Linked DNA regions of Homo sapiens. The protein of the gene in region 1 purifies or fractionates together with the protein of each later gene. This does not show direct contact. Each region holds a gene or a part of one and is shown in the gene's direction. Other genes may lie near its edges.

What was found.
Region 2: the proteins of PREPL (region 1) and GOT2 purify together in Homo sapiens (affinity purification with mass spectrometry, with the first as the bait; one large-scale study listed by BioGRID). This does not show direct contact.
Region 3: the proteins of PREPL (region 1) and ALDH1L1 purify together in Homo sapiens (co-immunoprecipitation; one large-scale study listed by IntAct). This does not show direct contact.
Region 4: the proteins of PREPL (region 1) and XPNPEP3 purify together in Homo sapiens (co-immunoprecipitation; one large-scale study listed by IntAct). This does not show direct contact.

The regions. Positions count from the first base shown.
Region 1 is NC_000002.12:44,353,886-44,359,577, reverse strand, and holds part of PREPL (prolyl endopeptidase-like), read left to right. Parts: coding exon of another isoform or gene 1-81; intron 82-5,692. UniProt on the Homo sapiens protein: Serine peptidase whose precise substrate specificity remains unclear. Does not cleave peptides after a arginine or lysine residue. Regulates trans-Golgi network morphology and sorting by regulating the membrane binding of the AP-1 complex.
Region 2 is NC_000016.10:58,727,817-58,731,316, reverse strand, and holds part of GOT2 (aspartate aminotransferase, mitochondrial isoform 1 precursor), read left to right. Parts: intron 1-3,500. UniProt on the Homo sapiens protein: Catalyzes the irreversible transamination of the L-tryptophan metabolite L-kynurenine to form kynurenic acid (KA). As a member of the malate-aspartate shuttle, it has a key role in the intracellular NAD(H) redox balance.
Region 3 is NC_000003.12:126,155,689-126,161,380, reverse strand, and holds part of ALDH1L1 (cytosolic 10-formyltetrahydrofolate dehydrogenase), read left to right. Parts: intron 1-378; coding exon of another isoform or gene 379-401; coding exon 402-528; intron 529-943; exon of another isoform or gene 944-1,096; intron 1,097-1,205; exon of another isoform or gene 1,206-1,298; intron 1,299-2,741; coding exon 2,742-2,976; intron 2,977-3,872; coding exon 3,873-4,038; intron 4,039-5,692. UniProt on the Homo sapiens protein: Cytosolic 10-formyltetrahydrofolate dehydrogenase that catalyzes the NADP(+)-dependent conversion of 10-formyltetrahydrofolate to tetrahydrofolate and carbon dioxide.
Region 4 is NC_000022.11:40,862,707-40,868,398, forward strand, and holds part of XPNPEP3 (xaa-Pro aminopeptidase 3), read left to right. Parts: exon of another isoform or gene 1-66; intron 67-5,692. UniProt on the Homo sapiens protein: Catalyzes the removal of a penultimate prolyl residue from the N-termini of peptides, such as Leu-Pro-Ala. Also shows low activity towards peptides with Ala or Ser at the P1 position.

The DNA.
Region 1 (5,692 bases):
CACCTAACCAAGTGTCTTCAGAATAAACCCAAGATATCAGAGTTAGCAAGAAACATCCCAAGTCGGAGCTTCTCATGTAAGGTATGGACTGTTTAAGTTAACCTATTTGTAGGTCATTAAGATTAATTTTAATTTAAAAATAAAGAATGGGTAGAATATCAGAGCTACTAATTTTCTCAGTAATTCTAACTTGATTTTTCTAATTTTCAAGTCTCAATTGTCTCTAGTCAAAAGTAAGTATAAAAGAGTATATACATCGAGGCAGGCAGATCACCTGAGGTCAGGAGTTCGAGACCAGCCTGGCCAACATGGTAAAACCCTGTCTCTACTAAAAATACAAAAGTTAGCTAGGCGTCATGGCACCCACCTGTAATCCCAGCTACTTGGGAGGCTGAGGCAGAGAATCTCTTGAACCCAGGAGGCAGAGGTTGCGGTGAGCTGAGATCGCACCACAGCACTCCAGCCTGGGTGACAGGGAGACTCTGTCTGAAAAAAAAAAAAAAAAAAAAAGTGTATACATATATTTATAGGGCTCTAATGTAATATATAAAAATGTAGGTTTATAAAAAATGATTCACCTCAGGACTTCCTTAGTATGCCTGCCAGTGCATTTCAAAGTATAATTCGGCCTTCTAAATTTCCTAGAACACTAAATTATAGCTCTTAATAAAATCTAATGATACGCTAATTGTTTTATGAATCACAAATCAGTAAACTTCAGTAAAGGCCATGAATTGTATTTTATTTCTCTGTAAAAAAATGAAAAATAATCTTGCGTTTTTGACCACTTGAGTCATTCAGGAAGACACTGTCAGAGTATTGTACTTCTGCCAGACCCCAAGCTGTGGGCGTGAACTCAACCTTAAGGACCTGATTGCCCTTATATAGAGAGTAACCACATAACCACTTTTGCCTGGCACAGCTCCAGCCTACACCTGTTGTCCCTGTGTAATTATTAATAGTGTCCCCTTTCCTCTCAAAAGTGTCCTGGTTAGAATGGTAAATTATATGGTCATCCTACAGTAAGTAGGATTAAATGATCTATTTGTGCTGCTGCTGCTTTGACATCCCTCTCCTACCTTTTACTTCTTATGTTCCTTAGGTTCCTTAATGATATTTGGGGGTGGTATTCTTGCAATAGTTTCACAAATTTATGATTTTAATATTTTTTTTATTTTAATTTCTGGTTTTGTCGCATACTGATTTTTCTTTTAGTCTGTTTTGGCTTCCTCCTTTCTTCGGGTAAAATATATGTATAACAAAGTTTTCCACTTGATCCATTTTAAAGTATGCAATTCAGTGGCTTTCAAAGTTCATCTGTGTTGTATGCATGTATCATAACTTCATTTCTTTTTATAGTTGAATAATATTCCTTTGTATGTATAAACCACATTTTGTTTATCCATTCCTGTAATTGATGGACACTTGGGCAGATTCTTCTCATTTTAGAAACTATCTTTTCAATCTAATTTTTCTCAGTTTTTCTAGTTTTTGTTCAATTTTTGCCGCTATCTTAGCTGATACCTATTTAGGTGTTGTGTGTGTCTCTTTTGCTTTTAACATTTTATATGTTAGCCCCCTAGTCTTCCTAGACTTTTACTGTTTATGTTTTAGTCTTTGAAATTCTTTTCCTTTTTGTAGTGTCTTGCCTTAGTTTAGTACTTTCTTTACTCATTTAGAAATTCTTTATAACTTCTTTTTATTTCATTTTTGTGTTTTTTGTACATCTTTCCTACTTCAGAAAGATAAAATTTTTAATTTCACCTATTGAACTAAATTTTGGACCTTTAGGTTATTTTATTTTGCATTGTGTTTAGAACATTTTGTCATGTCGTACTTTGTCTTAACACTTAGTTTATAAATAGTAGACAGGAATTACCATCAGAGTAACAGCTGTGATATTAGCTCACATTCTAAACAGAAGGTTGACTATTTCTTCCCTCCATTTGTTCCTGAAGCAACTTTTCCGTTCTCTTTTATAGATTCCCACTACCTGGAAACTTTAACCTGACTCAATAACTCCAAGTATTAATAGTTCATTTAGTAATTCCTTTACCTGATAAAGTAATCCTGCTGTCACATGTCATGTATCAACCATTCCCTCTATGAGAAATGATGTAATGTAAAAGCCATGGTCTTTATCACTGAGACCTGGGGAAGCTTTATAAAGATGCCCCGGCAGCTGTGAAAACACCTGTAGAGAAGAATGCACATTTCCTTCTTTCAGCAAGCATCCACTGATTTCCAACTCTGTCCACTTTTATAGGGTGTAATAAAGTAGAAAAAGTAGTTACTGCTTTTAGGTAAATTAAAATGTCTGCTTAAAGAGCTATTACCTATATAAGTTAACTAAGGAACAGAAAAGTAGCATGTGTAGTGGGAATGTTAGAAGGCAAAAGATCCAGCCACGATTGGTGTGACTGAACTAATCAGGACTCCTAATTTTCCTGACTGAAAAAAATAGGGAGTTCTGATCAGGCATACTGGCTCACGCCAGTAATCCCAGAACATTGGGAGGCCAAGGCGAGCAGATTGTCCGAGCTCAGGAATTCGAGACCAGCCTTGGCAACATGGCAAAACCCCAACTCTACCAAAAAGACTAAAAATTAGCTGGGTATGGTGGCGCACGCCTGTAATCCCAGCTGCTTGGAAGGCTGATGTGGGATGATTGATTCAGCCTGGGAGGTCGAGGCTGCAGTGAGGTTGAGGCACAGTGAGATCTTCAGCCTGGGTGACAGAAGGATACCCTGTCTCAAAAAAAAAAAAATAGGGAGTTTCAACTTGTCATTCTGTAGAAAGTCTTAGAGGTGCTAAAATTTCATGATTCTATACCTCTTGTTACCTTAGCAACAAATTACTGCCTAAAAGTTTGGGGACTCTTCAGTATCAACTTCTGCAGTCTAACTGTATATCAGAAATCCTGGAGAGCTTTTTAGAAATGCGGATTCCTGGATCTCACCCCACATCTGCGTAATGAAAATCTCTATGGTTGAGGCCTACACATCTGTTGTTTGTTTGTTTGTTTGTTTGTTTGAGACGGAGTCTTGCTTTGTTGCCCAGGCCGGAGTGCAATGGCATGATCTTGGCTCACTGCAACCTCCACCTCCCAGATTCAGGCAATTCTCCTGCCTCAGCTGCCAAGTAGCTGGGATTACAGGCGTCCACCACCATGCCCAGCTAAATTTTTTTGTATTTTTTAGTAGAGACAGGGTTTCACCACGTTGGTCAGGCTGGTCTCGAACTCCTGACTTCAGGTGATCCACCTGCCTCGGCCTCCCAAAGTGCTGGGATTACAGGAGTGAGCCACCATGCCCGGCCCCAGATCTGTTTTTTGAAGTTCACATCAGGTAATTCTGGAACTCACAACTTGACTGACACTGGACCTGAATTTAGAAATTGGAAATGTTTGATGATCAAGTGTTGCCGATCTAAACCTTATTGAATTCATTCAGTTCTGCAGTTCTTATTGGCAAGTACCTCTGCTTTCCATTTTACATTAGCCAGATGGCAAGATGAACTTACTCTATTATACTTACAAGCCAGCCAGTGATATTCAAAGACTAGCATCCATCCATCCAGATATCACATTTCTTTATCTTCCACATCATCCTGCTCTGCTCTGCCTAAAAAATAATTCCCAAAATCTTTAATAGTGATAATTTGAACAAGATACAAAATGAAATTGTATAATTAAAGAGAGAAGACTAAATCCTTTGGTTAAACATGTCATTTGCCTATTTCTACAATACAGGTTAGCAGCTCCTGCAATAGTCTCATATTCATATGTGTGTGTGTGTGTATATATATATATATATATATATATATAATATGTAGTTTTGTATATCTTGCAAAAAGTTTGAGCTACATCCTTTTAAGCAATAGAATGTTATTGAAAAATGTAGGCGCAATCAGATTTGCATTTTAGAAGAATCACTCTGACAGAATAGAGAATAAATTGGAAGTAGGAAGCCTTGTCAGTAACTCAGATGAGTGAAGATGAGAGTCTTTACAGGGTGATTGCTTTTTTTTGAGACAGTGTCTCACTCTGTCACCCAGTCTGTAGTGCAGTGGCACAGTCTCTGCTCACTGCAACCTCCACCTCCCAGGCTCAAGTGATTCTCGTGCCTTAGCCTCCTGAGTAACTGGAATTACAGGCATGTGCCACCACACCCAGCTAATTTTTTTATATTTTAAGTAGAGACAGGGTTTCGCCATGTTGGCTAGGCTGGTCTGGAAGCCCAGCCTCAAGCAATCCACCTGCCTTGCCCTCTCAAAGTGCTGGGATTACAGGCATGAGCCACCGCAGCTGGCCCTGATTACATTTTATTTGAGACATCTTAATGGAAGACTAGAGAGCTTGAGTGATAATTCCTCATCTCTTTGGATTCTAAAATCCAAAAGCCTGTTAGAAAACAAATGATTTTTTTTAACTGATTGGAGGCTGTTGAGAATGGGCAAAACCTGACCTAAACTGACACAAAGCTATTATGATCTTTATCCCAATTAGTAGATGTTTAGCTCTAAAATGTTACTGCATTTGATTAGAGTGTTGTTCCCCTGTAAACTGAGATAAGGTACCCAGTTAACATTCCAAAATCTCAAAATTCTAAAACGTACCTGGTTTATCTTTATGTTTCAGATGGACTTATTTCACAGTCATGTATGTAATCTTACTGATATTCAGATCTTAAGGGTGAAGAAGGCCGGGCGTGGCGCCTCACGCCTATAATCCTAGCACTTTGGGAGGCTGAGGCGGGTGGATTGCCTGAGGTCAGAAGTTCAAGACCAGCCTGACCAACATGGCAGAACCCCATTGCTACTGAAAATCCAAAAATTTTAGCCGGGCCTGGTGGCGCATGCCTGTAATCCCAGCTACTCGGGACGCTGAGGAAGGAGAATCACTTGAACCCGGGAGGTGGAGATTGCAGTGATCTGAGATCGTGCCACTGCACTCCAGCCTGGTGTGATGGGAGCGAGGCTCCATCTCAAAAAAAAAAAAGAGAGGAGGAAAGGATAAATATAACTCACTAGTAAAGTGGAGATTTCAGTAGCAGTTGGATATATGAGTCTGGAATTTGGGGAGAGTTGTTACATGTAGATAGTAGTTGAAGCCATAGGAGTCAAATCACTATATTTACCTCTCTGCTATTACTACATCATTTTAAACTTTTCCTGTCTCCCCATTATATTGGGAGGTCCTTAAAGACAAGAATTTTATAATACACATCTTGCCAGCACATAGCATAACGACTGCCACATTGTAGATAAGCAACGTGTTTATAGAATGAATTAATAGTTAAATTAATGCATTTTTTCTTTTCATATAACCATAAATTTTATTGCTAGAAAACATACCCCAGAAATCATCCCATCTGAGCTCTTTCTTTAGGTCTTTGATACTTTTTTTGTTGTTGTTGTTGTTGAGAGAGGGCCTCACTCTGTTGCTCAGGCTGGAGTGCAGAGGCACAAACATGGCTTACTGCAGCCTCAACCTCCTGGGCTCGTGCTGTCTTCCTGCCTTACCTTGCAAGTAGCTGGGCCCACAACTATGCCCAGCTAATTTTTTGATTTTTTGTGTGTGTGGAGACAGGGTCTCACTTTGTTGTGCGGGCTTGTCTCAAACTCCTAAGCTCAAGTAATCCTCCTGCCTCAGCCTCCCAGAGTGCTGGCATTACATGTGTGACCCACCATG
Region 2 (3,500 bases), on another chromosome or scaffold:
AAAAATTAGCCGGGCATGGTGATGTGCACCTGGAGTCCCAGCTACTTGGGAGGCTGAGGTGGGAGGGTCGCTCGAGCCTGATCGCTTGAGAGGTGAAGAGTTGCAGTGAGCCCGCTGATCACGCCGCTGCACTCCAGCCTGAGCAACAAAGCAAGACTGTGTCTCAAAAAAAAAAGATCACAGCTGTGCTATTGTCTCTGCCATTTTTAGCTCTGTGATTGTGGGCAAGCTAATTAACTTCCCTTCTGATTTTAAAGTAAGAAGAATGTGAGGAAAAGCAGTTTAAAAACTGTAAAACTTTAAGTAGGCTTAAGCTCCAGGGAAATTACAATGCGTTTCGATTGGAAAGGCTTACCTGAATACTTGGTACCTAACCTCTCTTGGATGACCAGTCAATATTGCTCAATGTTTGAGGCTTTGTGCCTGTATCCAAAATGTACTGATAGAAATCACTTTCTAGGTCACAGGTTATCAGCATGAGTTTTGCCCCTAGAACACTCCTATTTTCATCTACTCGATTCCTTTAAAAACATCAGAGTTCTTACAATATGTGTGTAGTCTTTACCATTTTAAGAAATGGAATAATGAAAGGCATGGAGGAGTTGAAAGATGGTTACTAATGTGGGGCTAATCAAATTGAGTATTCCCTCTAGGCCAGGTGCCGTGGCTCACACCTGTAATCTCAGCACTTTGGGATGCTAAGGTAGGAGGATCACTTGAGCTCAAGAGTTGGAGACCAACCTGGGCAATATGGCACAACCCCATCTCTACAAAAAACTAGCCAGGCACGGTGGCACACACCCATAGTCCCAGCTACTCGGGGAGGATCACTTGAGCCCGGGAGGTAGAGGCTGCAGTGAGCCGTGGTCACGCCACTGCATTCTAGCCTGGGTGACAGAGTGAGACCCTGTCTCAAAAAAAAAAATTGTATCCCTCTAGGAGGGGAACAACAGACACTGGAGCCTACCTGAGGGTAGAGAATGGGAAGAGGGAGAGAATCAGAAAAAATAACTGTCAGGTACTATGCTTATTACCCAGATGATGAAATTATCTGTACACCAAACCCCCAGGACATGCACATGTACCCGTGAACCTGAAATAAAAGTTAAAAAAACCTCCCATGCCTCTGCCCTTCAGATGCTAGTAGCACCTGCTTTCCCCCAGAGTTTCAACAAACAGAAATGTCTCCATAAATTGTCAGTGTTCCCTAGCTAGGCAACCCCTTCCTCTCTCTCTGGCTAAGAATAACTTTCCTTGTGATCTGGATTATAAACTTGTCTCAAGCAATAGATACATAGTTTTCATACCTGTGTTCTTTAATCTGTACTTCATTTTCAATCTCAAAACTAGCATTGTAATTGTAAAATGAACATAATTTATTACATTTTTAAAAAAAAAATTGAGTATCCCTGCTCCTATATTTAGATTGTTTAAAAATTCAGTATTTTGAAATTGTGTTTAGAATTCTTAAAAGACAGAGGCTGGAGGGCTGGGGCTGAGGGAGGGTGGTGGGCCTGCGGGGACATTCTTACTGTGCAAACATAGCGATAAAAACATGTCATTTTCCAAAGCAAAAACAAAAACAAAAAAAAAGAATTCTTAAAAGGTATACCAGAAGACACAAGTCTATGGTTTCTGAGTTTCTATGCTTAACATTTTAAAGAACTTGAAAAATAAGTGCTTTTCACACCATTTAACAAGAATGATGCTTTCTCTCCTTGTGGTAGGGAGCAATGGGCAGTGGCTTTGTTATGATTGAGGGTCTTGGAGGATACAGACCATTGTTTTTTCTTTTTCTTTTTCTTTTTTTTTTTTTTTCTTCCTGAGACAGGGTCTCTATGTAGCCCAGGCTTGTCTCAAACACTAGGCTTAAGTGACCCTCCCACCTCAGCCTCCTGAGTAGCTGGGACTACAGGCAAGAGCCACTATGCCCAGCCAGACCATCTTTTGAAAAATGAAAACTTTTCCAGAAGTGTTCTCTTTTATAATCTAGTATGTCCTTGACATTCAGGGTATTCCTTTCACTCGGCAGTTAATGACAGTGATGTAGATAGACAGGTGGCTGCATGTTTTCAGGGTCTGAATTGTGGATAAGTAATAATGAAAGCTTTCTTCAGGCCCAGTTCAGAAGTTGGTTTAAGGTATCTGTGCTTCTTACTATTGCCTAGGTACTAGGAACAGCCAAGCAACCTAGAGCCACAGCAACACAAAATGAGAGGCAAGCTATTAAAAGAACTGGCACCAACACTAGTGAGGGGGAAGGGTGATAATGGCAGTGTCTCCTGATTCTCTAGAAAAAACTATGCAGTAGTAATTGAAAAGCAGAAAAGGGCCGGGTGCGGTAGCTCACGCCTGTAATCCCAGCACTTTGGGAGGCTGAGGCGGGCAGATCACTTGAGGTCAGGGGTTCAAGACCAGCCTGGCCAACATGGCAAAACCCCATCTCTACTAAAAATAAAAATAAAAAAATTAGCCGGGCGTGGTGGCGGGTGCCTATAATCCCAGCTACTTGGGAGGCTGAGGCAGGAGAATCGCTTGAACCCGTGAAGTGGAGCTTGCAGTGAGCTGAGATCGTGCCACTACAGTTCAGCCTGGGCAACCCAGTGAGACTCTGTCTCAAAAAAAAGAAAAGCAGAAAAGGTTGGTTGGAGGGTTGTGGGTTATTGTTAAACTGATTAACATTGTCTCCCCCCACAGCCATGCTTGATTTGCTTTGTATTTAAAGAGAAAGAAAAACAGAAAGGACCTGCATTTGGTCACAAGGTCTTACGGCTGCATATGCTCCTTGAATTCTCTACATACTGGCCTCACCAGGCTCTGTACTAGGATGCAGGATGGTTACAAATAAAAGTGGAGTGATAATAATTTAGTAACGATGACTATTAGCGAACATCAGGCACTCTGCCAATTTAGGTTTTGAGTGTTTTTTTCATCATTAGACCAGCCCTGTGAGATAGGTAGTTTTATGGCCCCATTTTACAGATAAGGAAAGTTGATGCTTGATTTACTTGCCAGTGCTCACACAGCTGGCAGGTGGCTGAGCTATTATTTGAATCCGTACAGTTTGCCCAGTACTGAAATTACCCAAGGCAAACTATTAAAAGAAACATTACAAGAAATAAGAGCCTGGGAAATCCAAAAAACTGGAAATAATCTGCCCTTTAATAACAGAGAATTGACTGTACACACTAATTAATTACAACGATTGAGACTGCAGCAGTCTTTAACTTGTCAAGGGAGCATGAATTAAACTCTGTACTGCCATCAAGTGTGCCCCATGGAGGAGTGAGGTGTATGAGTGCTGACTAGCCACAAGTACATTAAGAGAACCTTTGTTGGGAAAGAAATGTTCATGAGGTAATTCACGAGTTTATCAGCATGGTGAACACGGAGAACTTCCATGGTACCATACTGAAACATGTGGCTGATTCACAGTGGATGAGTGATTACTAGGAGAACTTGAGCGATTCTCCTGCAACAACCCCCAGCTCCTTCTCACC
Region 3 (5,692 bases), on another chromosome or scaffold:
AAGTGTGACTTGACCAAGGCCATAGAACTGGTTAGTTACAGAAATATGCTCAAATACATATCAAACATCTTGACACCCAACATTCCATGCCAGTTTGGAAGGTTTCAAAAAGAAATCCCCTAATTCTACAATCCATTTCCAGCTCACCTGCTGTCGCATTGAATATTCTGACATTAGGGATCCATTGGGTCATGTGTACATGTTTCATCTGGTCTCTCTTACAGTGGCAGTCTCCCCTCAGTGGCCTGCCACCCACAGAGCCACAGAGGGGACTGGGGTAGAGCAGGCCAGGTGCCATGAACTGCCCTGTCTTGAACCAGGGCTGGCTTCTCTGAGACCAGCGATCTCTGTCTAATTGCTGCCTTATTCCTTCTCCAGGTCCTTCCAACCCTCCTGCTACCATGAAGATTGCAGTGATTGGACAGAGCCTGTTTGGCCAGGAAGTTTACTGCCACCTGAGGAAGGAGGGCCACGAAGTGGTGGGTGTGTTCACTGTTCCAGACAAGGATGGAAAGGCCGACCCCCTGGGTGAGTGAGCCAATGGAGCAGGGAAGCTGATGGAGGGCGGCCCGCCCATCCAGGTAGAAGGGAAGCAGTAGGTGGGAGTCTGGGAGCAGAAGTCTGCAGGGCCTGTGCTCTAGCTGGGAGGCAGCCATAAGTGGTCTACCTTGAATCCTGCTCCAGTGCCAACAGGCTGCTGGGCTTTTCTGGAATAAATTGGAGATCCCCTCCCCACCTGATCATGGGGTGGCATTAGGGTCCTGGAGAAGGGCTATAGAGAAGCCCAGCCTGGTCCCAGGTCCCACACAGAGCTTCTCTGACCCAGCACCCATGATTGGGAAGGTCTCCATGTTCTGAACTGGGGGTCCATATTCTGAAAGGTGGGCATGCGCGGCATCACCATTGCTGGGGCTGCCGTCAAAACACATAGTGCTCTACTTACCCATCAGGGGAGAGACCATGATCACAAAGGTGGTTTTCCCAGGGCGAGTCTTCTCCATTGTACTCTGGATGTGCTGATCCCTGCAATTTCCCCAAAGGTGGGAAACTCGACTTCATAATTTGTGGTAATGGGGAACTGCATTTGCACTCTCCCCTGGCATTTTGTAAAAGAAAAGAAAAAAACACAGAGAGTACTAAGCGCACCCTGAGAGTTTCGGATTCAGAATGAGGTGGAAAAGTCAGAATTAGGTGAAATTGTTAACCTGGGACAAGTTCCTGGGAGATACTGGCATCTCTTGTACTAGGAAAAGCACGTTTTGAGAATCATGGGTCTGGGTCACTGCCTTTGAGCTGGGAACCTCAGCAGACAGGATGCAGGGGCCTCAGCTTGGATGAACAGACCCTCTAGGAACACTGACTGGTCCTTCTCAGGCCTGATGGAGACAGACTGTGGGGCAGGGCTTAAGGATAGAGGGCCAGGATTAGGAAAGGGGGCTTGTAGGCCTGGCCAGGCACAGAGGTGTAGTTTGTTAAGGAAAGCCAGTCTCCCTCAGTGGGGAAGCTGCAGCCTGGCCCTAGAATCAACTCCAACACTCAACACCCAATGCCAGCCAGGCTTCAGTCTTGGACCTGACCACAAGTGACCCATGACATACCCTGACCCCACCACAGCCTGGGTCCTACACCCAGCCACTAAGTGACCACTGACCCCAGCTGCTGACCCTGGACCCAGACCAGGCCTGGCTGGGACTCCTACTTGGCCTTGATCTCAGATGTCCTGAAGCAGTATTTCATTGGTCACTGTGGGACAGCTTTTGCAAGTGCAGTCCAATCTGCTGACATCACATCCCACCCTCTCTCAAAACTACCAGACACCAGGACAGAGTGACAGAGGAGGAGACCGGAGAGGAGAGCCAGTCCAGTCAGGGCCCAAACATCACACCAGAGGCTCTAACAGAGAACTGAATACAAAGAAGTGTTCCTTGGGTATTGAAGAGTGGAAGGCAGAGAGCCCAAAGTTATTGGGGACAGCGACTGCAGGAAGCAGCTGCCACTGTAAGGCTAAGATAAAGGAGGACGCTTTAACTATAAAAACTTGGGAGCTTGGGCCTGTAATCCAGACCTGTGAGGAGGGTGTGCTGGTGACGGGGCAGGAGGAGGGGCCCTGCAGGCTGTATCTGGTCCTCTGGGGTGTGTGTGTGTGTGTGTGTGTGTGCACGCATGTGTGCATATTGAGGCTAGTTCTGCAGATGATGGAAAAACTGATTTAGCCATTGCTCTGAGAAGGAACGACTGTGACTGGGATGAAGAAGCTGGGCTGGGGGAGGCTCACAGGACAGGAACCCACTGGACAGAAAGGAGTGGGGATGCCCTGTTGCCCTTCTTCCCCTTCTTCCTCCATCAGGGAACAGCTGACAAAGCAGAAATGCCATCTGCAGGGGGGCAGTCCCCATCACAGAGTGAGCAGTAGAGGGGGCCGGAAGACAGTAACTCAGTGACGGGGATGGCAAGGCCTCAGGAGAGGAATGAGGGCAGAGGTCAGCCATCTGGGTTCTGGAAGAGGGAGGCACTCAGAGGTCCTGGGGTTCAGCAAAAGTCAGGATGCAGGCAGGGCAGTCCCCAGAGCCTCATGCTTGGCTGGTGCATCCGTCTGTGTTGCCCAGTGGAGCCTGGCTGGGGTGTGGGTGAGGGGGCAGGAATGGAGAGAAGTCCTATGAGCTGCTCTGCTGGGAAGGCAGAGGTGGCTGCGTGTGGGTGGGTTATGGAGAGGGGCCAGTTTCTTATCCACCGTCCCACAGGTCTGGAAGCTGAGAAGGATGGAGTGCCGGTATTCAAGTACTCCCGGTGGCGTGCAAAAGGACAGGCTTTGCCTGATGTGGTGGCAAAATACCAGGCTTTGGGGGCCGAGCTCAACGTCCTGCCCTTCTGCAGCCAATTCATCCCCATGGAGATAATCAGTGCCCCCCGGCATGGCTCCATCATCTATCACCCGTCACTGCTCCCTAGGCACCGAGGGGCCTCGGCCATCAACTGGTGAGATGGGGCAAAAACACAGGGGGCCATCCCCATACATGTCCCTCCATCAGCCTGACTTGTCACTTTCCATTAGCCCAAAGCATTTCTAGGGCTGCAGAGTGGGCATCGTGCAGGTGCCTGTCCTGTGGCTGCCAGATGTCAGCCACAGAACAGGCTGTGCAACGTTATCAATGAGTGAAGGCTCTAGAGCACTGGGAGCAGGTGTTGCTAAGCACTCTGCATTCCCACAGTTATTGGAGAAGCTGGCACTGTCAGTGTTCCCATCCCCCAGCTGAGACAGAGAGGGCACCAGAAGGCGCAGGGACAGAGAGGGCACCAGGAGGCGCAGGGGCCAGGGTGCCACCCCAGGCGGTGGGCTGGGGGTCCTACTCTAACTTCCACTGCCGCTGCTCTGGGCAGCACACTTCGTAGAAAGAGATAAAGATGGAGCAAAGGATGGCCTCCACAAGGTACTCTGAGGGGACAGAATTCCCAAGACAACAAATGGGGTGACAAGGCAGATGGGTGGTCAAAGAGGGAAGACATTTGAGTTGAGAAAAGAGAGTGGATTTGTAGTCGGACTGGTCTGTTGAGATTCAGGCTCTCTGATCTTTGTGGGTGTCGCTTCACTTTTCTGGGCCTTAGTTTCCCTATCTGTAAACCGAGTATACCTGTTATCCCTGCTGTGAGGACTCAGTTACATAAGGCATATAGAGCTTTTAGCACAATTCCTGGCCCATGGTTGTTATCAATACATGCTGTTTTCCTTCTTCCGTTTCCCGCCGGAGCCGGTGTCAGTCCTACCCCTGGGAAGAGAGGGCCTCCTGGAGGGTGGCAGGTCCACGGGCCTGTACCCAGGACATCCTCCGTGGCCCTTCATCGTGGACTCCAGGTTTCACTCTTCTGCTTCCTAGGACCCTCATTCACGGAGATAAGAAAGGGGGGTTTTCCATCTTCTGGGCGGATGATGGTCTGGACACCGGAGACCTGCTGCTGCAGAAGGAGTGTGAGGTGCTCCCGGACGACACCGTGAGCACGCTGTACAACCGCTTCCTCTTCCCTGAAGGCATCAAAGGGATGGTGAGGACCTGGAGCCGGCCGCGCCCTGCCCGCCCCGACGCACCCTCAAGCATCCTCCCTAGACCCAGCCCACCGCTCCTGGAGGCCAGGAATCTGTTCCCCAAATTCAGGATTCTGGAGGGAGAGGAGCTCTCACTTCAAGGTTTCAGAGGCAGGATTAGGACAAACAGTGTATTGTATTAGGAGGGAATCTTGCTCACAACGGACAGAACCCAGCTCAAAAAGCGTTTGGCAAAAAGGGGACATTTTGGGGCCCGTTCAATAGACAAGGAAGGCTAAAGGCAGGGACTGGGTCACACCCTGCTGAATCCAGGAGCTTCAATTATGACATCGTTAGGATTCTATTTCTCTCTCCTTCACTCGTTGATTCTCCTTTTCTCTGTGTGATTTGTTTCATTCTCAGTTTGGCTGCCCTGAATTAGAGGAAAGATAGCCACTATAGCTCAAGGATTCTAATTCTTGATTCCAGGGAAAGAGAAACACTTTTTCTCCTAGAATTCATCAATCACAAATCAGGGGAGATTCTGATTGGCCAGCTTGGGGGTCATGTGATCCTCATGAGCCAATCACCAGCTGGGGTGATGGAGTGCTCTGATAGGCTGTCTCCGTCACATGCTTCCTGCTGGGAAGGCCGTGACCTGTGGTCACATGGCCTGAGCGGCAGGGCGGCTCAGTCACCTGGGCAGCTGGTACTGCTGAGAGGCAGGGTGGCAGGCTATGGGCCGGAGCCCACAGCTGCAGGAGGGGCCCGGGGATCATATGTGAGGGCTGCTTGCCCCTGCCCGAGGACAGGCTGGCAGGGACGGCCACAGGCAGAGGTGCTGTCCAGGCATGCAGCAGGAGGGAAGGAGGCCCTGGGGAGCCCTTGCTGTTTGGGCGCAGCAGGAAGAGCAGCTGCAGTGTCCACTGTCCCCTCGTCCTCCTCAGCTCCTGGCCACTGCCTTTTATTTTTCGGTTGTGTTAAACTTGTCTTCCCCACAGATTGACCAGCTCACAAAAATAGTGAACAAAGTAGAGTTGCTGGAGATTTAGTGGTACAGAGAGGGAGCTTACCTGTGCTTCCCACGGCAAGCAACTCAAATACTCCTTGAAGCTGCACTGTCCAACAAGGCAGCCACTGGTAACATGCAGCTATTAAATCAATTAAAATGAATTATACTGAAAAATTCAGTTCCTCAGTCTCAGCCACATTCTAAGTCCCCTGGCCACCGTGTTGGACCGTGCAGACTTGGAACTCATCCATCACCACAGAGGGCTCCATTGGGCAGCCCTGCCTCAGATGCTCTGACACCCGGTCACTTCCCATTCTTGGCACCTCCCGGTCTCTTCCCTCAGGCTCTTGCTCACGTGGGCCCAGACTCCTTGGCTCTCCTTCTCCCTCTCTGATTCCTTTCCCACCACCTTCCTCTTTCCTGTCACAGAGAAACAACTTCCTGCTTCATCTCAGACCTCCAAACTTCCACCTTCAAGCCCACCACGGGGCTCAGGACCCACTCTCTTTAAAGGCAGAGAAGGCTTAGACAGCAACATGGACATTTGTGTCTGTGTTATACCTGCAGGGCTTTACAGTTTATATAATCATCTAAGATATCAGAAGATGTAAGATCTATGTAATCTAAACCTTTGCCAGGTAGAGAGGACGGGTCTGTGTCCG
Region 4 (5,692 bases), on another chromosome or scaffold:
TGTCCACCCAAGGTTTACTGCTGTAAAACATGTAATTAAAGATTTGGAAAGTTGTGTGTTTATGTATTCACTGTATAATTATTGATTGTCTACTTTGTGCCAGGCACCGTTTTAGCCACTGGTGATAGCAGTATTGAACAAAAGACACCAGTTTTCCTGGTGCTTGCATTATAATAGAATACAAATAGGAGAACAAATAAAATAATTTAAGATAATGCGATATGTGCTCCAAAAAAAATAGCAATGTGCTGGGGGCAGAGCGCTACTTTAGATTGGTTTTAGAAGGCTTCTGAGGAGATGACATTATTGCTGAGACCTATATGACAGTCAGCCACATAGTGATCTAATATGGTAGCCACTGGCCATGTTGATGGACATTTTGGTTGTTGCCAGTTGGGGCTGTTGGACATAAAGCTAGCACTTATTTCAAGTACAGTGGGAAGCCTTTGTGGGGAGTGGGGAATATGCAAGTTTAATGATGTGATTTACATTTGTAATGGATCAGTGGCTACTATTTGGAAATTCAGTCATGTATGGGAAAGTAGAATTCGAGAGCCAAATTAGAAACAGACCAAAGGTGATTTTCTTTGGGGATAAACTACCAGTAGTCTAGACCCGAATTTAAAGGTCTTATATTCTATACCTGGCTCATTTTATTGTCTGAGAAAATTCCCTGTAATCTTTGTTTTTCCTCCTCTATGTTGTGTTTATTTTATTTTCCATCACATTTATAACCCCTCAGTTAAATGATACGCTAATGAAATCTAAAACTGTAGTGTATGCTTCTAGTCTTTCAAGACCATTTGTCAGGTCTGAATATTTTTTTGCTTTGCATTTTTATATATACTCATTTTTTAGAGGTATTGTGAAATGCTTAAAACTCAATTTAAATTCTCTCCAGTGTATGTGCTTACATGTACTTATGTGTGGCTTACCCATGATTATAATTTGCCTACCACTGGAAATAATAACCAATAATGTCGAAAATTATTTGAGTACCCTCTGAGTCACACTGTAGCAAGTGCTCATTTAACTGACACAGCACTCTAGCAAAATAAATATTTTATGCCCATAAGAAAACAGACGTTCTGAGAGAGAAAGTAATTTGTCTAAGGCTACATAGCTTGTTAGTGAAAAATCTGATTTTTAAACTTGAGTCTAATTTCAAGTTCTCATTCCACTCTACTGCATTTCTCGGACTAGGACTTAAAGAGTTTAGGTTCTAGGCATTCCACAAACAGATACTGAGAACCTGCTGTTACCGGAAAGGGGTCCCAATCCAGACCCCAAGAGATGGTTCTTGGATCTCGTGCAAGAAAGAATTTCAGTGGAATCCACAGAGTAAAGTAAAAGCAAGTTTATTAAGAAAGTAAAGGAATAAAGAATGGCTACTCCATAGGCAGAGCAGCCCCAAGGGCTGCTGGTTGCCCATTTTTATGGTTATTTCTTGATTATATCCTAAACAGGAAGTGGATTATTCATGCTTCCCCATTTCAGACCATATAGGGTAACTTCCTGACGTTGCCATGGCATCTGTAAACTCTTGGGGTGCTGGTGGGAGTGTAGCAGTGAGGACAATCAGAGGTTACTGTCATTGCCATCTTAGTTTTAGTGGGGTTTGGCCAGCTCCTTTTTTTAAGAACATCACAGGTAAAGCTCACAGGAAGGTGACAGTCTAGGAGAAGATGTTCGCAGTGTCTAAATTTGACAGGGACTTATTTTATTTTCATTATTATTGTTACTATTATTATTATTTGAGGTGGAGTTTCGCTCTTATTGCCCAGGCTGGAGTGCAATGGTGGGGTCTTGGCTCACTGCAACATCTACCTCCCGGGTTCAAGCCATTCTCCTGCCTCAGCCCGCTGAGTAGCTGGGATTACAGGCATGCACCACCACGCCCGGCTAATTTTGTATTTTTAGTAGAGAGGGGGTTTCTCCATGTTGGTCAGGCTGATCTCGAACTCCCAACCTCAGGTGATCTGCCCGCCTCAGCCTCCCAAAGCGCTGGGATTACAGGCATGAGCCACCGCACCCAGCTGGTCAGCTTCTTTACTATAACCTACCTGTTTTATTAGCAGGGTTTTTGTGTCCTGCATTTTGTGCTGACTTCCTATTTCATTCTGTGATTAAGACTGCCTTAACTTACTGGGAATGTAGCCCAGTAGGTCTTAGCCTTATTTTACCAAACCCCTACTGAAGATGGAGTTGCTCTGGTTCAAACGCCTCTGACACTATGATACAGAGAAAAGGTAGAAAATAGGAAATTCTGCTCTTAAGAAATTCATATAGTTTGAAAAAACTAATTTCAGTGGAGTGTAAAGTTATAATACGAGCACTTGTTTCTGCAGTTATACCCTTCTTTGTTGATCCTTTGCCTCCCAGCCATCCGCTGTGCCATTTTCTCTGCCTCTTCACAACAAAACTTATCCAGAGTATTGTCTCAGTGTCTTTGCTTTCTTACATCCTATTCCCTCCTTGGCATACTCCAATCTGTCTTCTGTCTTCTTTACTCTGCTAAAATCGCCAGGGTCTCCAGTGATTGATGTTACCATATCCAGTGGTTGTCCTTTTGGCTTCCTTGTATTTTGAAGCACTTGCCACACTGTGAGCCCTCCTCACTTTTTTTTTTTTTTTTTTTTGAGATGGAGTTTCACTCTCGTTGCCCAGGCTAGAGTACAGTGGTGTGATCTCGGCTCACTGCAACCTCTACTTCCCAGGTTCAAGCCATTCTCCTGCTTCAGCCTCCCGAGTAGCTGGGATTACAGGCATGTGCCACCATGCCTGGCTAATTTTGTATTTTTAGTAGAGACAGGGTTTCTCCATGTTGGTCAGGCTGGTCTCGAACTCCCGACCTCAGGTGATCCACTTGCCTCGGCCTCCCAAAGTGCTGGGATTACAGGTGTGAGCCACTGCGCCTGGCATAGTCCTCCCCACTTCTTAAAACACTTGTTTTTTAACTTCCTAAATACCACACTCTTTTTTTGTGGGGGGCGGGGGGGCAGCGGGTAGAGACAGGGTTTAGCCATGTTGGCCAGGCTGGTCCCGAACTCCTGGCCTCAAGTGATCTGTCTGCCTGCCTCGGCCTCCCAAAGTGCTGGGATTACAAGCATGAGCCACCATGCCCAGCACTAAATACTGTACTCTTCTAGTTTTCCTTCTTTCTCCTGTGCTCTTTCTCACACTAAAATATTACAGTGCCAGGCTTTGTTCAGTCTCCCTGGGTAATACCCATTCCCAGGGCTTTAGATGCCATCTGTGTGCTTATAACACCCTAATTTATATATCTAGCCTAGCACTTTTCTCCCTGAAATTAAGATTGCTCTTTGACCTCTCCATTAAATTTATTTCCAATAAATATCTCAGGCTTTCCTGTTGCATGTAGTGGTACAACCATTTATTCACTTGTTCAAGTCAAAAATCAAGAATTATTCTTAATTCCTCTTTTTTCTTTATTTCTTATGTCCAATTAGAAGCCAGACTCATTGACTTTTAACTTCAAAATACATTTCAAATCAAGTCACTGGGAAAATAAAGTCAAATAACAAGTGATCTCTGCTTCCAAAGATTGTTCATAGTAGACTGGCAAACTAATTAGCAATTATGTGAAGTGTAGTAGGTATTAAAATAGAAATCATAGGAGCGTTGGGGAAGACATCTGAAACAAGCAGAACAGAGGCAGTAGGTGTGAGAAGAGTAAGAGAAGTCTCTTGCGTAAGTGATGTTTGAGCTGGTATTTTTTAGAATTTCTGTAATCGTATAAGCAGGCAGTGTCCACTTTAGACTAAGAGAACTATATTTTTTAATGCAAATGCTATTATGATGCAGAATGATTTAGCCGGGGTTCTTCAAGTAGCTTAGTGTGGCTGCAATAATGTTTTTTGAGGATTAGGTCAGATAAGGGAGCAGGATCCAAATCATGAAGTTTCCTAAGCAAAAGAGTTTGAAGCTTATGAACTGGATATTTTTGAAATAGGACTTAACACACCAGCTTTGCTACTAATTATATGACTTCGGGCAAAAGATGTTTAATGTAAGTAAAAAGCTATTGAGACCTTTTTTAAAAATTTACTGGGAATAAACATCTTAATTTATGTCTCCTGTTAAAGTGTTACTTGTTTGCTTTGAATTTAATAAAGTTAAGCTCCCTCTGCTTGAGAGTGGTCCAAAATATGCTAGGATTATTTCATATGAGCATTGAAAAAGGAATCAGTTAACTTTTTATATTCTGAAATTTTACTGCCTAATGAGATTACAGAAGACACTATGTGTGCATGAGTACGTGTGCACGAGCGTGCATGTGGAGAAGGTGCAGGAGGAGAGAAAGAGAAATCACCAATGCAACAGCAGCCTACTCCACCAGTGGGTTAGTGCTGCTGGAGGGAGATGAAAAGATTAGGAAGGTAAGATAGCTTTGAAGGCTTTGTATTCTAAATTAAGGAGTTAGATTTTTAACTGTCACGTGAGGTAGGCATTATCATCATTATTTTACAAACACAGAATCAGACTCAGAGAAGTAATCTGGACAAGGTTACACACTTAGTACCAGAGAAGCTGAGATTCAAACTCAGGTTTATTTGACTTCATAATCTTTGCTCTTATCCCTCCCCCTTGCCGCTCACTAGGTCCTCTCTGTTTAATCTCAACAATCAATACTGTACAATCTCCTTGTGAACATACAATTTCTGTAAGGACTATGAATTATGAATAATAATATATGTATTTGGGAGAGAAGAGTCTTAAAAGTTAATTCCAGTTTGTAGAAGATTGTTTAGAAAAATCATAGCTTCTTCTAAAAAGATTTAAAAAAAAGAAAAATCATAGCTTCTAAGATGATTACAAAGAAATTGGTGTGGGTTTCCAACCTGGGCAACATAGTGAGACCTCATCTCTACCAAAAATAAAAAAAATTAACCAGTCTTGGTGGCACATACCTGTAGTCCCAGCTACTTGGGAGGCTGAGCCACTGACTCCAGCCTGGGCAACAGAGTGAGACTCTGTCTTAAAAATAAATAAATGAATAAATATTGAAGGAGAGAAGGAAGGAAATATTAGTTTGCATTTTTCTAAAGCATCCAAACTGTTGGAGATGGATAAGTGCATTTATACCATGAAGACTTTCTAGATCTATTGTTTCATTTCATTTATTGCCTAAGCCCAGAGGAACAAAGCTGCAGTGAGCTATGATCATGCCACTACACTCCAGCCTGGGCGACAGAGTGAGACCTGTCTCAAAAAAAAAAAAAAAAAACCCAACAAACAAAACTCCTTATGTGTGAATCCACTGTTGCATTCACCATTTAATATTGTAATGCTCTATTTTGTCTCACCTCCACTAGACTGTGCATTCTTTAAAGACCACAGCATATAGCCTTGTCATTCATGTGTCTTTCTTTGAGCATGTTCCAATCATGTGCAAAGAATTTTTTAATTAATGCTAATAACTAACATTTGTTGTACTCTATGATTAAGCATTTTTCATAAATTATTTTATCTAGCTCTGACATTCCAAGATTAAATGAGATAGCATGTGCATATTTTCTCATGCTTAACATATTCTCAATAAAAAATGTTGATTATCTTTTCCTGAGTTTTAGGACACAGCTTTATGCTATCTCTGTGATACCCTTTCAAACTGCCTCTGTGATATCCTTCCCCTGCCTTTTTTGGTTCCTTTCTTCTGTTTTCATAGCTC